Linked DNA regions of Homo sapiens: region 2 is linked to region 1. Evidence: fine-mapped expression QTL. A gene starts in region 1. The other region holds a variant in brackets. All regions are shown on one strand. Distances are from middle to middle. Region 1 holds the start of RPS25 (ribosomal protein S25). Region 2 holds the start of VPS11 (VPS11 core subunit of CORVET and HOPS complexes).

Region 1 (8,307 bases):
TCGTTTATGTCAGTTGTGCCTCAAAGCCATTTTAAAATGACTGTCACATATGGGGTATGTCGCTTTAAATTAGCCTAGGGCCTTCTAAAGCTCCAGAATTCCTGGGCTTTGCTTTTAGACATTTCTAGCTCTTAATGAGGAGAGGTAAGCTAACAGCTAGGACATGTTTCACAATAGCCTGAAGACTTAAAAAAAAAAAAAAAAGCCTTAATTTTTTTTTCAGGTGCCACACCTCCCTGGATGATCCAAGATGAAGAATACATTGCTGGGAACCAAGAAATAGGACCATCCTATGAAGAATTTCTTAAAGAAAGTAAGTAAACTAATTCAAGAGAGGATCGTCTAAATCTTCACACTCAAAAATGGTTTCCTTGCCTGTGTGTGGTGGCTCATGGCTATAATCCTAGCATTTTGGGAGGCTGAGGTGGGAGGGTCACTTGAGCCCAGAAGTTTGAAAACAGCCTGGACAACATAGTGAGACCCCATCTCTATATTCTTCAATAAAGAAAAATAAAAGTTTCCCTATCATTGTACAGAGGAAAAACAGAAGTTGAAAAAACTCCCCCCAGACCGAGTTGGGGCCAACTTTGATCACAGCTCCAGGACCAGTGCAGGCTGGCTGCCCTCTTTTGGCCGCGTCTGGAATAATGGACGCCGCTGGCAGTCCAGGTATGTGTGTTCAGTGCCGGGTCTCCAACCTACCCATCCAACCTCCTTTTTGGAGATGTCACCCTTCATCATCGTGTTAACCCTTTATTTCCTTTCAGACATCAATTCAAAACTGAAGCTGCAGCAATGAAGAAGCAGTCACATACAGAAAAAAGCTAATCATGCTCTCTACCAACTACCATGAGGCTAAAAGCAAAGTCAACAAACCCCTATTATACCTTCCACCAAATTCTTTATCATTGTCTTTCTTAGGAAACAGACATACTCATTCATTTGATTTAATAAAGTTTTATTTTTCCAAATGTACAGCTGGTTGGACCTGTAAAAAAAAATTAAAAGAATCAGAACCATAAAGCTTTGTATCTACCTCCTACACCATGAGCCCACACATTCCTACTCACCTATTCATGCATCTTCACCAGCAGCTGGAGCATCTCCACCCTTGGTATTTCTGGTGTAAATTACTTGAGCTCTGTGCTTTGAAACCAGTTTGATAAGTCCTAGGGGGAGAGAATAGCACGATGAGATGCTTAACAGATGCTACAATAGAAACTAGTAAGGTTTTTGGCTGGGCGCGGTGGCTCATGCTTATAATCCCACTGCTTTGGGAGGTGGAGACGGGCAGATAGCTTGAGGTAAGGAGTTGCACACCAGCCTGGCCAACAAGGTGAAACCCCATCTCTACCAAAAATACAAAAATTAGCTGGGCATGGTGGCACATGCTTGTAATTCCAGCTACTTGGGAAGCTGAGGTGAGGACCACCTGAACCCAGGAATTGGTGGTTGCATTGAGCCAAGACTGCCCCTCCGCACTCCAACCTGGGCAACAGAATGAGACTCTAGTAAGGTTTGTTTTGGCCGGGTGCAGAGGCTCATGCCTGTAATCCCAGCACTTTGGACAGGTGGATCTCTTGAGCCCAGGAGACCAGCCTGGGCAACATGGCAAAACCGCATCTCTATTTAAAGAAAAGGAAAACAAAAAGACAGAGTTCTCTCAGAGGTGCCCAGAATGGTCTTAAAACTCCTTGGCTCAAATGATCCTCCTGCTTTGGCCTCCCAAGTAGCTAGAAATACAAGGGTACCACTGCACCTGGCTCCAGAATTGCTTAATCTGACGTTCGGTAACCGAGAATCCTAGTTTTTAACGATCATCTATCCTTACTTTTCCTTTAAATTAGGGCTCCATTATCTTCCACCCCCCCCCCCTTTCTGAGACAGTCTTTTGCTGTCACTAAGGCTGGAGTGCAGTGGTGTCATCTCGGCTCACTGCCACCTCCATCTCCTGGGTTCAAGGGATCCTCATGCCTCAGCATCCTGAGTAGCTGGGATTACAGACGTGTGCCCCCACGTCCAGCTAACTTTCAGTAGAGCAGGTTTTCACCATATTGGCCAGGCTGGTCTTTAACTCCTGACCTCCGTTGATTCACCCGCCTTGGCCTCCCAAAGTGCTAGAATTATAGACGTTCAGTCACTATAGTTAGCTGAGCCTTATTATTGTGGAATTATGGTAATCAGACCATACTACTGAGTAGACCGTACTAAATTTCTGGTTTTAAAATTTAATACATCAACAAAATATTTACCATAAAGGTTTTAAACATTTTCAAAGTTGTTTCAAAATAGTAATCTAATTATTTCAAAAACGGTTGTCCCTGTAATTCTATGCATCCATTTACTCGAAACATAAAAGATCCTTGGGCTTCACTAAACTGCCACAGGGTCCACGGCACAAAAGTGGCTAAGAACCCTGAGAATTCATCTCAGGATCAGGAGTAAGACGTCAGAATTACATTACTAACAGCCAATGGTCAAGCCACGCTTTTTTTTTTTAATTCTGCTTTTCCAGCAAAACCACTGAAGATGCTTAACATGGTCAAGACAATTTAACCTACAAAAACACACATGTAGGATACACCCCTCACCTTTACTAAGGAGCTCCTGAAGGGCTGCCCTGGCCAGGGAGCCTCGAATCTTCAGTCTCTCAGAGACCACAGCTGGGGTTATAAGTTTATAGTTGGGAACTTCCTTACAGAGTTTATCATAGGTAGCTTTGTCAAACAAGACTAAGTTATTGAGCTTGTCCCGAACTTTGCCTTTGGACCACTTCTGCTCACCAAAACAAAACAGAAACAAGTTAGTATTTCTGGCAGAAGCACCCTTTCCCTCTCGAGTAATCTGCGTCAGAGAAATCTGTTCCACCGTTATCAAGGATAAATTACACATTACTAAAACAAAAACAAAAAAAAAACACCGACACGTTTTTGGCCTTCAAACAGGGGCCGAGCCCCACTAGATCAGTTAAAAATAACACAGCAGGCACAGCGGCAGACACTTCGCACAACAGACCCATTTTCATGATCCTAATGGGAAAAAGAACGAGTGGTGACGGGAAGATAAACTCTCACATTTTGACTCTAGAAATCTACACCTGAAAAACCACTTACTATACAAGTTACCTATTACTAGAGGATTACGAGAGAGTTACCCCTAGTCTCTTTCAGAGAGGTCTTATTTCTACCTTCTTTTTGGCCTTGCCCCCGGATTTGTTCACTGGGTCTTTGTCTTTCTTGGCCGACTTTCCAGCGTCCTTCTTCTTCTTGTCGTCCTTAGGCGGCTGTAGGAGGGCAGCGGGAATGCAACCAGGTCCTCAAATAGCGCCAAAGTCCCCTAATACTGCGCCCTCAGCCCCCGCAAACTCCACCACCAGAGCACATGGGCCAAGCAATAACCGCGCCCGCCCTGCAACCGAGGCCGGCAGGCCAAGGAGCGCTCCCGCCGAAGGCTCTCCCCACTGAGTCCTCAAACCCAAGAACGCCGGCGACTTCACACCCCTGAAGCTTACCATTGCGAAGCTCGGAGAATAGCAGCAGACACCGCAGCCTCGTCAAGATGTCGGACAAAAAGGAAGCGCTGCTCAGAAACGGGCCCAAAAACCACCGTCCGCTGTGAGTACTTCCGGGGCAAAAGGCGGAGCCAGGCAGAAGAAGTCCCACGGCGAAGCGCTCGCCCTCTAGCCTGAGGCGGAAGACAGGAAGTGGATTCTAGTTCCCAAGCCGCACCGCCTAAATACTGCCGGAGTCTGCGCTAGTTGTGACGCATACTATAGCGCTGTTTTCCTGCACTGATAAACGAAAAGCAATCCACCAGGTCTCGGCAGCTAACTTTCCGGCACTACTTATGCCCGAGCGTGTCGCTCCCAGTGCGCAAGTGCAGCAGGTGGCTGCACGGGGGGCGCGGGAGGAGGAGGAGGAGGAGGAGGAGGCTGGGGTGGGGCCGGCGGCAAGTGCTGTGATGCGGTTCCGGGGAGGGGCCGTCGGGTAGAGGCTGAATACCAGTTTCCGAGCGGCAAGGCAGCGATGGCGATTTTTAGTGTGTATGTGGTGAACAAAGCTGGCGGCTTGATTTACCAGTTGGACAGCTACGCGCCACGGGCTGAGGCTGAGAAAACTTTCAGTTATCCGCTGGATCTGCTGCTCAAGCTACACGATGAGCGTGTGTTGGTTGCTTTCGGCCAGCGGGACGGCATCCGAGGTGGGCTAGGCTCGGGCCCGTGGCGGGTGCGGGGGTGGGAGGGCCCCAGTGCTGTAGAAGTGGGCTGGTTGTAGGTGCGGGGTTGGGGGAAAAGGGGTTGTGTCGGGTCCCTTGTCCCCTCGGCGGAATCCCCGGGCTGCACCTTCGCTGACCGTTAGCTTCACCTCTGCAGTGGGTCATGCAGTGCTGGCCATCAATGGCATGGACGTGAATGGCAGGTACACGGCCGACGGGAAAGAGGTGCTGGAGTATCTGGGTAACCCTGCTAATTACCCGGTGTCCATTCGATTTGGCCGGCCCCGCCTCACTTCTAATGAGAAGCTTATGCTGGCCTCCATGTTCCACTCGTAAGTCCCCCGTCTCCTGAACGGCAGCGCTTGTAATTTGTCTACCTTTTCTTAAATCGTCGTTCTGGTGTTATGAAAAACGCAACCGATCCAGATCTAGATTTTAGGTAATAACGGCAGTGGTGTCATCTTTTTTTGCTGGGTGGGGAGGGGCCGCGGAGTTACCCAGGCTGGAGCGCAGTGGCGGGATCTCGGCTCACTGCAGCCTCTGCCTCCCAGGTTCAAGCGATTCTCCTGCCTCAGCCTCCCGAGTAGCTGGGATTACAGGCGCGTGCCACCACGACCAGCTAATTTTTGTATTTTTAGTAGAGAGGGGTTTTGCCATGTTGGCCAGGCTGGTCTCAAACTCCTGACCTCAGGTGATCCACCTGCCTCGGCTTCCCAAAGTGCTGGGATTACAGGAGTGAGCCACCGCGCCCGGCCGAGGTGTCATCTTACTTAAAGTCAACTTCTCTTCTCTGAGCCTTAGTTTCTTCATATTTAAAGAAAGCCAGTTTAACTAAATGACCTTTAAACTTTTTCTGCTCTCAATTGTGATATCAGATGTGCCGGCCTTTGCTTAAACACAAGCTTAGTAAGCGTGGCACATATTCCTAGAGTATTCATTTTACCCAAAGTTTTAGATGTAAAATGTCTTGTAACAAAGTATGAATGTAAAATATTCACAGAATTCAAATGAACTTAGAAATTTTGACACTACTGCCAGTCAGTTCACACTACTTCTCCTGACTGTCCCAGGCTGTAATGTGAACTCCTCAGCAAATAGGGACACTTCAGTGGAAGTTTGAGAAGCACTCCTTCCTTAGAGCAACTTTGCCTCCTTTGCATATAGGCTCTTTGCCATCGGCTCCCAGCTGTCTCCTGAACAGGGAAGCTCAGGCATTGAGATGCTGGAGACAGACACATTCAAATTGCACTGCTACCAGACACTGACAGGTATGCATCTCCACGGAGGCCAGAGGAGTGTGATGGAGAAGGTGGGGAAGAGATACTGATAAGTTTGCATCTCCAGGTGGGCCAGAGGAGTGTGGTGGAGAAGGTGGGAGGAGGGGGTTGACCAAAGACACCTTTGGTAAGCAAGAAGAGGGGGTGTGCTTTTCCTGGCACAATTCTTTTTTTTTTTGAAATGTTTCACTCTTGTTGCCCAGGCTGGAATGCAGGGGCATGATCCGCCCCCTGGGTTCAAGCGATTCTCCTGCCTCAGGCTCCCAAATAGCTGGGATTACAGGCATGTGTCACCACACCCGGCTAATTTTTCTGTTTTTATTAGAGATGGTGTTTCTCCATATTGGTCATGGTGGTCTCAAACTCCCGACCTCAGGTGATTGCCCGCCTCCCAAAGTGTTGGGATTACAGGCGTGAGCCACCACACCCGACCCACAGTTCTTTTTTTTTTTTTTTTTTTTGAGATGCAGTTTCACTCTGCCACTCAGGCTGGAGTGTAGTGGCATGATCTTGGCTCACTGCAGCCACCACCTCCTGGGTTCAAGCAATTCTCCTGCCTCAGCCTCCCAAGTAGCTGAGACTACAGATGCCCGCCACCACACCCAGCTAATTTTTTGTGGGGTTTTTTTGTTTTGTCTTGTTTTGAGATGGAGTCTTGCTCTGTCACCCAGGCTAGAGTGCAGTGGCGCGATGTTGGCTCACTGCAGCCACCACTACCCGGGTTCAAGCAATTCTCCTGCCTCAGCCTCCTGAGTAGCTGGGATTACAGGCATCCGCCACACGCCCAGCTAATTTTTGTATTTTTTAGGAGAGATGGGGTTTCACCATGTTGGCCAGGCTGGTCTCGAACTCCTGACCTCAGGTGATCCACCTGCCTCTGCCTCCCACAGTGCTGGGATTACAGGCATGAGCCACCGCGCCCGGCCTTCCTGGCACAATTTTATAGACACATCTGTTTGTTTGTTTTGTGAATACAAAACCAATATTTAATCTGAAACTGATTTTGTCCATGCCACCCAGCATGTTCAGCAGAGGTTATCTTGTGTTCAGATAAAACTCACCTTAATGCTATTTCCTGTTGCGTGTACTTTGGAAGGTGTTAAGTGTTTTTCCAAAATGAAATTTGAAAGCAAAATGGATATGACCTTTGGATTGCCAGTGTCATTGCTTCACCCTCTTCATTTATTGAAAACTGCCTGACTTTGTCCCCTGCCTGGCAATGTTTCTGCTGAGGGACTCCAAAACTGTTAGTAAGTGGCAGAGCTAGAACTCAAAGCCTGGTCTTAATCAGGTGGGTGACATAACAAAGTTACTTCACTTCTCTGGTCTCATCGGTAGATTCAAAGTCTTGCCTTTCCTGCATTATGTGGTAAAAAGAATAAAATTAAAATAGGCTTATGAAAGTGTTTTGCAAAATTGAAAGTGCTGTACAAATACAGGATGACACTATTTGCTCCAGTGTCTACGCTTTGGTAACCATTCTTGGTCTCTCTCCAGGGATCAAGTTTGTGGTTCTAGCAGATCCTAGGCAAGCTGGAATAGATTCTCTTCTCCGAAAGATTTATGAGATTTACTCAGACTTTGCCCTCAAGAATCCATTCTATTCCTTAGAAATGCCTATCAGGTAAGTGGCCCCACTTCCCAGATACTGTTTAAAGCGTCCTTGCCCCTCCCTGTGTGCTCTGTCCAAAGTTAGCTGAAGCATAGTAGAGTATTACTTTTTTTGTTTGTTTGTTTTTGAGACGGAGTTTCGCTCTTGTTGCCCAGGCTGGAGTGCAATGATGCGATCTTGGCTCGCTGTAACCTCTGCCTCCCGGGTTCAAGCGATTCTCCTGGCTCAGCCTCCTGAGTAGCTGGGATTGGATGCATGTGCCACCACGCCTGGCTAATTTCATGTTTCTAGTAAAGACAAGGTTTCACCATGTTGGTCAGGCTGGTCTCAAACTCCCGGCCTCAGGTGATCCACCTGCCTTGGCCTCCCACAGTGCTGGGATTACAGGCGTGAGCCACTGCGCCCGGCCGAGTATTACTTTTAAGTAAGACACAAGGAAAGGCCGGTGGCTCACGTGTGTAATCTCAGCACTTTGGAAGACGGAGAGGGTAGGATCACTTCAGCCCAGGAGTTTGAGATCAGCCTGGACAACATAGAACCCCATCTTTACAAAAAAAAAAAAAATTAGCCTGGTGTGGTGGCGGACACCTGTAGTGCCAGCTATTAAGGAAGCTGAGGCGGGAGGATTGCTTAAACCTGGAAGGTCAAGGCAGCAGTGAACCATGCTCGTGCCACTGCATTCCAGCCTGGGCAACAGAACAAGACCGTGTCTCTAAATAAATAAGACAACAGTAGCTGGGTGCAGTGGCTCACGCCTGTAATCCCAGCACTTTGGGAGGCTGAGGCGGGCGGATCACTTGAGGTCAGGAGTTTAAGACCAGCCTGGTCAACATGGTGAAACCCCATCTCTGCTAAAAATACTGAAAATACAAAAATTAGCCAGGTGTGGTCGTGTGCACCTGCAATCCCAGCTACTCAAGTAGGCTGAGGCAAGCAGAATCGCTTCAATCTGGGAGGAAAAGGTTGCAGTGAGCTGAGATCGTGCCACTGATTCCAGCCTGGGTGACTATTTAGAGAAAACAGACTTTCCTTGGTGTTTATGTCATTTTTGTTTGTTTGTTTGTGGGGTTTTTTTTGTTGATGTTTTTTTTTTTTTTTTTTTTTTTGAGACTGAGCTTCACTCTTAACCACCCAGGCTGGAATGCAATGGTGCCATCACGGCTCACCACAACCTCTGCCTTCCGGGTTCAGGCGATTCTTTTG
Region 2 (8,299 bases), 46 kb after region 1:
TAATCCTAGCACTTTGGGAGGCCGAGGCAGGCAGATTGTCTGAGCTTAGGAGTTCAAGACCAGCCTGGGCAACATGGTGAAACCCCGTCTCTACTAAAATACAAAAAAATTAGCCCAATGTGGTGGTGCATGCCTGTAATCCCAGCTACTCAGGAGGCTGAGGCAGGAGAATTGCTTGAACCCAGGAGGCAGAGGCTGCAGTGAGCCGAGATTGTACCACTGTACTCCAGGCTGGGCGACAGAGTGAGACCCTGTCTCAAAAAAAAAAAAAAAAAGAAGAAGAAGAAGAAAGCTCTCGAAGCTCCTAAGAGAGCTCCAACCATGAATACCCCTGGTGGGAGCATGGTTCTGCCACAGCTACAGTTCTCAGCCTGGGTATCTGTCCCCCTGGGTAGTGAAGCAGGTGCAAGTGCTCTGAGGAGTCAGCTGTTTTGTTCTGGGACCAGAGGGTAGAATAGTATTTCACAAGAACAAGCTGAAGAACAATGGGAAATTTTTAATGTAAAACACCTGATTTAGATTGACCTAGGCAGGTGAACTCATTGGTTCTTCTCCAGAATAACTTGTTAACATTGGAGGACTATATCCCTTCCCCAACACTGCAGAAACCTAAGGGAAGAAAGTTGCCGTCTTGCAGAACATGTGCCAAACTGACAGAGGTGTAAAATAGACATATCGGTGAGGGTATATATGCACATAAACCATGCAAATTACATGATGGGCTGAGGGCAGTGTTGATCAGAGAGAATATCCTACACCAGAAGAATTTTTAAAAATTAGTTGTCGGCTGGGGGTGGCTCCCGCCTGTAATCCCTGCACTTTGGGAGGCTGAGGCAGGTGGATCATGAGGTCAGGAAATCAAGACCATCCTAACACGGTGAAACCCCATCTCCACTAAAAATACAAAAATTGGTGGTGGCATGTGCCTGTAGTCCCAGCTACTCAGGAGGCTGAGCCAGAAGAATTGCTTGAACCCAGGAGGTGGAGGTTGCAGTGAGCCGAGATCGCGCCACTGCACTCCAGTCTGGGCGACTGAGCCAGACTCCATCTCAAAAAAAAAAAAAAAAAAAAAAAATTGGCCCGGCGTGGTGGCACGCACCTGTAATCCTAGGTACTGGGGAGTCTGAGGCAGGAGAATTGCTTGAACCTGAGAGGTGGAGGTTGTAGTGCGCCAAGATTGTGCCACTGCACTCCAGCCTGGGTGACACAGTGAGACTCTGTCACAACAACAACAAAAAAAAGTAAACATATGTTCACCCAGAGGCTGTTGGTAATAGCTTTATTTATAACAGCCCCGGGCTGAAAACTATCCAAATGCTCATCAACAATTGGATAGATAAATGAATCAGAGATTCATACAGTGGAATTCTATACAGCAATAAGAATGAGTGGACTATTATTACATAGGACAACTTAGATGAATTCTACAAACATAATACTGAGTGAAAGAAGCCCAAGTACATACTGTATGATTTAAATATCAAGTTTAAAAGCTGGCAAAACTAAGCTACAGGGATAGAAGTCAGGATGCTGCTATCCTTTAGATACAGGGTCTTGCTCTGTTGCCCAAGCTGGAGGGTTTAGAAGAGGACATAAGGCAAGCTTCTAGGGGTGCTAGATATGTTCCCCCCACTCCTTTTTTTTTGAGAGAGAGTCTCACTCTGTCACCCAGGCTTGTGTGCAGTGGCACAATCTCAGCTCACTGCAACCTCTGCCTCTGGGGTTCAAGCCATTCTCCAGCCTCAGCCTCCCAAGTAGCTGGGACTGTAGGCGTGCAACACCATGCCCAGCTAATTTTTGTATTTAGTAGGGACAGGGTTTCACCATGTTGCCCACGCTGGTCTCGAACTCCTGACCTCAGGTGATCTGCCTGCTTCGGCCTCCCAAAATACTGGGATTACATGCCTGAGTCACTGTGCCTGGCTGCTAGCCATGTTCTCATTGCTGATTACGATGGGAGTGTCCAGTTAGTTTGTGGAATTTCAGTGGGTTGTACTACTCTACAACTTTTTTGTATGTTGTTACTTCAATAAAACATTTAAAAATTATTTTGTCTGTCATACAAACAACTCTAGGGTTTGTTGTTGTTGTTGTTTTGAGACAGGGTGCTCACTCTCTTGCCCAGGCTGGAGTGCAGTGGTGTGATCACAGCTCACTGCAGCCTCCATCTCCTGGGCTTAAGCAATTCTCCCTCCTCAGCCTCTCAAGTAGCTGGAACTACAGGTGCACATCACCACACCTGACTACTTATTTCTTTATTTATTTTTAGTAGAGACGAGGTCTGCCTATGTTGCCCAAGCTGGTCTTGAACTCCAGGCCTCAAGTAATCCTCCCACCTTGGCCCCCCAAAGTGCTGGATTATAGGCATAAGCCACCTTGCCTGGCCTCAAGAGACTCTAGGTTTGACTTTGCTGTAACCCTAGGCAGGAGAGAGCCCATTTTCAGCAGGAGATAAACCAAGATAAATTTTTTCCTACTTCTATAACAATATTTTTAGAATTACAAAAGAAATATGTGGCTAGGGCCAGGCACGGTGGCTCACAGTACTTTGGGAGGCCCAGGCGGGTGGGTCATTTGTGGTCAGGAGTTTGAGACCAGCCTGGACAACATGGTGAAACCCTGTCTCTAGTAAAAATACAAAAATTAACTGGGTGGTAGTGGTGTGTGCCTGTAATCCCAGATACTTGAGAGGCTGAGGCAGGAGAATCACTTGAACCTGGGAGGCAGAGGTTGGGGTGAGCTGAGATCGCGCCATTGCACTCCAGCCTGGGCGACAGAGTGAGACCCTGTCTCCCCGGCCCCCGCCTCCAAAAAAAAGAAAGAAATATGGTGGCTTACACTTGTAATCCTAGCACTTTGGAAGGCTGAGGCGTGTGGATTGCTTGAGCCTAGCAGTTTGTGACTAGCCTGGGCAACAGGGCAGAACACTGTCTCTACTAAAAGTACAACAACAACAAAATTAACTGGGCATGGTGGCATGAGCCTGTAGTCTCAGCTACTGGGGAGGCTGAGGTGGGAGTATCTCGTGAGCCTAGGAGGTGGAGACTGTGGTGAGCCGTGATTGTGCCACTGCACTCTAGCCGTGTCTCAAAAAACAAAACAAAACAAAAAAGAACGAAAGAAATATGCGGTTATTGACGAAAACTGGAAGAACATTAAAACAACAACAGGCCGGGCGTGGTGGCTCATGCCTGTAATCCTAGCACTTTGGGAGGCAGAGGCGAGTGGATCACTTGAGGCCAGGAGTTTGAGACCAACCGGGGAAACATGTCAAAACCATGTCTCTACAAAAAATACAAAAACTAGCCGGGCATGATGGCGTGCGCCTGTAGTCTCAGCTACTTGGGTGGCTGAGGCACAAGAATCGCTTGAACCTGGGAGACGAGACAGAGGTTGCAGTGAGTCGAGATCGTGCCACTGCACTCCAGCCTGGGCAATGGAGGGAGACTCTATCTCAAAAAGAAAAGAAGGTAGTTTCTACCTGGAGAGCCAGATGATAAAAACGGAAAATTAAAGTTTGCTGAGGCAACTACACAGGAGGCTGAGGCAGGAGAATCACTTGAACCTGGGAGGCGGACGTTGCAGTGAGCCGAGATCACGCCACTGCACTCAAGCCTGACGACTGGCGACAGAGCGAGACTCC[G/A]TCTCAAAAATAAAATAAAATAAGATAAAAATAAATTAAAGTTTGCATTTGGGACAAGAAGTGTTCCTGTTTTGTTCCAGTGGATGTAACTGTTTTATATCATGGGCAGCAGTTTGCTAAAGGGAAAAGAAAATACTGCAAGACAATTCTTGCATTCTTGATTCTGAGTTATGACCTCTCTAATTCGAAACTAAAGACTTGTATTTCTTCTTTATCTTTAGTCCATTCAGAACTCGAGTTCTCAGTATGCAGAACTAACTGTAAGTGAACAGTCATTTTCTGTGTAATTTGCTTGGTTATATTCCTCACTATCCTGAAATTCCTGGGTTCAGACCAGTGTAACTAAGAGACAAACCCTGGTGTATGTTCTGACAAGCATAATCTAGCTTTACACCCATCAAACTATCTAATTAGAGGGTAGGGGACTGAATTACTCATTTTATTTCCAAAGAACTTTGAAGTTTTTGCCCAGAGAGAGCCACTTTAAGTTAAACTCTTTGAGACTCCATTTCTCATCAGGGATAATGATACCTCTTCTGCAGATGGTTGCTACGAAGATTCCATGAAAAGCGAAGGCACTTTATTAGATATAATTTACTACATGAAATTAGGGGCTTGTTACTGTCAGTTCTTTTTATGCCTGTCTCTAGGGTGGTGGTTGAGGACCATGTCTTGTTCATTTATATTCTGGGCATTTGGTACAATTCCTGGACTAGGAGTGCTCAATACATATTTGTCAAAAGAAGGAAAGGAAAGAAGGTAGTAAGTCTGAAGAGGTGCTGTGGGTCTCTCTGGCAGGCCAATCTCGGCCTTTGTAACCCTCATCAATAAGAGGATCCAATGGGCACAAGTAGAACCAGATTCAGCCCTCAGAGGAAGACGTGGAGCTTCTGCCATTGGACAACAGGGGGAGCACCCAAGCAACAAAGATGCACTCTATCTCTTGTTCACATCTCTGCTTTTACATTTCTTCTTTTTTGAAGCCTGTTGCCCACGCTGGTCTTGAACTCCTGGCCTCAAGGGATCCTCCTGCCTCAGCCTCTTAAAGCGCTGGGATTACAAGCATGAGCCAGCTTGCCTGGCCACATTGCTTCTTTTAACATATATTCTTCATAGGCTTAACAACTGACATATTAACATACTATCTAAACATTCTGATGACCAGTATGGAATATGCTCAGTAGGTGAAAGTGGGTTCAACCCGCTCCCATTTGTGCTTCTGCCCAACAGTTGGTATCCTGAAACAGTTGCAATGAATTGGAGATATCCTGTGTGATGAAGAGGAAAGAAACTTGAGTTGGAAGTCAGGAAATCTGTGTGCATGGTGGTGGCTAGAGTTTCTTCCTATCATTTACCTCTTCAGACAAATGGACGCCACCTGCCCATCAACCAGATTGAGGAGAGGAGTGGATAAGAGGAGAGGCATCCACACCACATTCATTCCTTCAACCAAACATGGAACTTCTACCAGGCTCTGCTAGGCCTCGTTCACAGTTACGGTACAAGATGTAGCCCCCGCTCTCAGGGAACTCTGGCTGGTGGAAATACAGCATCAAATATTCTGAAATAAGTTGGGGGAGGGCCGGGTGCGGTGGCTCACGCCTGTAATTCCAGTACTTGGGAGGCCGAGGCGGGTGGATCACCCGAGGTCAGGAGTTCGAGACCAGCCTGGCCAAAATGGCAAAACCCCAACTCTACTAAAAATACAAAAATTAGCCAGGCGTGGTGGCAGGCAGCTGTAATCCCAGCTACTCAGGAGGCTGAGGCATAAGAATCGCTTGAACTCGGGAGGCGGAGGTTGCAGTCAGCTGAGATTGTGCCACTGCGCTTCAGCCTGGGGGATAGAGAGAGACTCTGTCTAAAAAAAAAAAAAAAAAAAAAGAAAAAAGAAAAAAAAGGAAGTTGGGGGAGTGCAAACAATAAACTTCACAAATACCACAGGGTCACTTTTCCATATGTCCCTACCATCTCAAAATGATGCTATGTCACTTCTGTCTATAGGTTCTCATGGCACACAAACAGTAAACCTGCAGTAGTTGTCCATGAGGATAGATCTTGCTTGGATTCAAAGATGGTTTAGCCAGAGTTGGGAGTGGAGAATGATCATGTAATATCTTGGACACCTGCCACTTCTCATTAAAACACTCAGCTCTCAAAGCTGCCACTTCCAGGTTTTTGCTCAGTTCTATGTCCCCTACCCTGCCACTATGAAAGGGGGAGAAAGCCCAGGGCCTTGGGAATTCCTGCCCCACCAGTATTTCCCAGTTTCCTTTTTTTTTTTTTGAGACAAGGTCTTGCTCTGTCGCCCATGCTGGAGTGCAGCGGCTCGATCACAGCTCACTGCAGCTTCCAACTCCGGGGCTCAATCGATCCTCCCACTTCAGCCTCCCAAGTAGCTGGGACCACAGGTGTCCACCACCATGCCAGGCTCATTTTTGTATTTTTTGTAGAGATGGGGTTTCACCATGTTGCCCAGGCTGGTCTCGAACACCTGGGCTCAAGTGATTCCCCCACCTCGGCCTCCCAAAGTGCTGGGATTACAGACAGGCATGAGCCATCGCGCCCAGCCCGTTTCCTTAAGAAACGTTTTGAGCGTCTGTTAGGTGTCATACGCTCTGACGGGGGAAACAAAAACGAATATAAAACATTGACTATGGTTCACAATCTGCGTGGTGGCAGACACAAACTTCTAATTTTATTTCTCCTCTCATACAGCCGAAAACCTGGTTTAACATACACTGTTTCATTTATGCCCCAAAACAGTCCTGTGAGGTCAAAACGTCATTCACTTACGCACGGCGGGTGACAGTTCACAAGGCACATGACATCCCTCATCTTGATCTCCCGGTATCCGCGCATTTTAGGAAGAAACATGCTCAAAGGGATGAAGGGTCCGCTCTCAAGCATTTTAGCTAGCGAAGTTACAGTCACATCCGGCAAACTCGCACACTGCAGATCTAGGACTACCCCGCGCGGCCCCGCCCACTTTCCCAGCAGCGGGACGCTGTCACCCCGACTCAGGAGCTCCTGGGCCCGCGGGCTCCCGGAAGCTGCCGACCACGTGATTCGCTGGCTCAGCTCACGTGACAAAGCTCCCGGAGGTGGGAGCCCTGGGCCAAAATGGCGGCCTACCTGCAGTGGCGGCGCTTCGTTTTCTTCGACAAGGAGCTGGTGAAGGAGCCGCTGAGCAATGATGGGGCCGCTCCCGGGGCCACACCTGCTTCTGGATCCGCTGCTTCCAAGTTCCTTTGCCTCCCTCCTGGCATCACTGTCTGCGACTCAGGCCGAGGGAGCCTGGTCTTTGGAGATATCCTTCGTTTGGAGCTGTCTTTTCCCTCCCGGGATCCCGAAGAGATCGAGTTAGGATGAAATCTGTTTGTCGGAGGGGTCCGTGCCGCGCGCCTCTTTGGTTTAGCTGGTCATCCAGAGTTGTTCTGTGGTCTACGGGAAGAAAGAAGGAAGTCCATCTCCTAACTTGTTATCAACTGAGCAATCCTGGGCAAGTCATTTAACCTCTCTGGGTTTTAATTTCCTTATCTGTAGGAGATGTGTGCATGCCAATTTGACGAGGTTAATTTGAGATCAATAAGAAAAAGAATGCAAGTTGGCTTTAAAAGATGAATATGTAAAGTGACATGATTTCCCCTGCCCTAATATTATCGTTGGCGAGGAGGTAAATGAGCCTAGCGGTTTGTTGCTTTCATCTTCATGTTGCTGCTACTAAATTCTGGCCTTTTTACCTTTTTTTTTTTTTTTTTTTTTTTGATACGGAGTCTTACTCTGTTGCCCAGGCTGGAGTGCAGTGGCGGGATCTGGGCTCACTGTAACCGTCTCTTGAGTTCAAGCGATTCTCCTGCCACAGCCTCCCGAGTAGCTGGGACTACAGGCGCTTGCCACCACACCCGGCTAATTTTTTACATTTTCAGTAGAGACGGGGTTTCACCATATTGGCCAGGCTGGTCTCGAACTCCTGACCTCGTGATCCACCCGCCTCGGCCTCCCAAAGTGCTGGGATTACAGGAGTGAGCCATCGCGCCCGGCGCACTAAATTTTTTTCTTTTTTTTGAGACGGACTTTCACTCTTGTTGCACAGGCTGGAGTGCAATGGCATGATCTGGGCACACTGCAACCTCCGCCTCCCGGGTTCAAGCAATTCTCCTGCCTCAACCTCCTGAGTAGCTGAAATTACAGGCACGCACCATTATACCTGGCTAATTTTTGTATTTTTAGTAGAGACAGGTTTCACCATGTTGGCCAGGCTGGTCTCGAACCCCTGACCTCAGGTGATCCGCACCCCCCCCCCCCCCCGGCCTCCCAAAGTGCTGGGATTACAGGTGTGAGTCACCGCGCCTGGCCTCACTCTTTTTAAGATAAGGAGTATGTGGGAAAATCCTTGAAAATTTTAGAGTTATATACATGTAATTGTTATCTGAGTTCTGGTCTGAATGTAAGTATCTCTCCTTGGAAAGGAGGCTCCTTGACTACCCTGCACATATGGAAGGCCAGATCTGGTTCTTGCCACGTTCCCTACAGCTTACAGGCTTCCAAGCCTACAAACTACGGGTGACACACCTGTACCAACTGAAGCAGCACAATATTCTGGCATCTGTTGGAGAAGATGAAGAGGGCATCAACCCCTTGGTGAGTCCCAGCAGG

Evidence for each region. PIP is the estimated chance that this variant, and not a neighbour inherited with it, causes the effect.
Region 2: its variant is fine-mapped to the expression of RPS25 in whole blood (INTERVAL, PIP 0.94).

What each region holds. Positions count from the first base shown.
Region 1 is chr11:119,014,771-119,023,077 of GRCh38, forward strand. It overlaps RPS25 (ribosomal protein S25), which reads right to left and starts at 3,573. Exons shown (of 5, transcript NM_001028.3): 1 at 3,512-3,573; 2 at 3,188-3,283; 3 at 2,592-2,775; 4 at 1,071-1,169; 5 at 947-988. The coding sequence starts at 3,514. The coding sequence ends at 1,075. CENATAC (centrosomal AT-AC splicing factor) reads left to right here. Exons shown (of 11, transcript NM_198489.3): 9 at 224-313; 10 at 537-669; 11 at 768-1,023. The coding sequence ends at 828. It overlaps TRAPPC4 (trafficking protein particle complex subunit 4), which reads left to right and starts at 3,996. Exons shown (of 5, transcript NM_016146.6): 1 at 3,996-4,200; 2 at 4,373-4,547; 3 at 5,380-5,483; 4 at 6,990-7,116. The coding sequence starts at 4,026. RefSeq lists enhancers at 3,295-3,364, 3,385-3,614, 3,869-4,567 and a silencer at 3,855-3,974.
Region 2 is chr11:119,061,061-119,069,359 of GRCh38, forward strand. It overlaps VPS11 (VPS11 core subunit of CORVET and HOPS complexes), which reads left to right and starts at 6,758. Exons shown (of 16, transcript NM_021729.6): 1 at 6,758-6,950; 2 at 8,136-8,284. The coding sequence starts at 6,764. It overlaps LOC124902769 (a long non-coding RNA gene), which reads right to left and starts at 6,695. Exons shown (of 2, transcript XR_007062917.1): 1 at 6,437-6,695; 2 at 4,202-4,911. RefSeq lists enhancers at 6,746-6,795, 6,856-6,905. The variant G/A (reference allele first, on the strand shown) is at 3,644.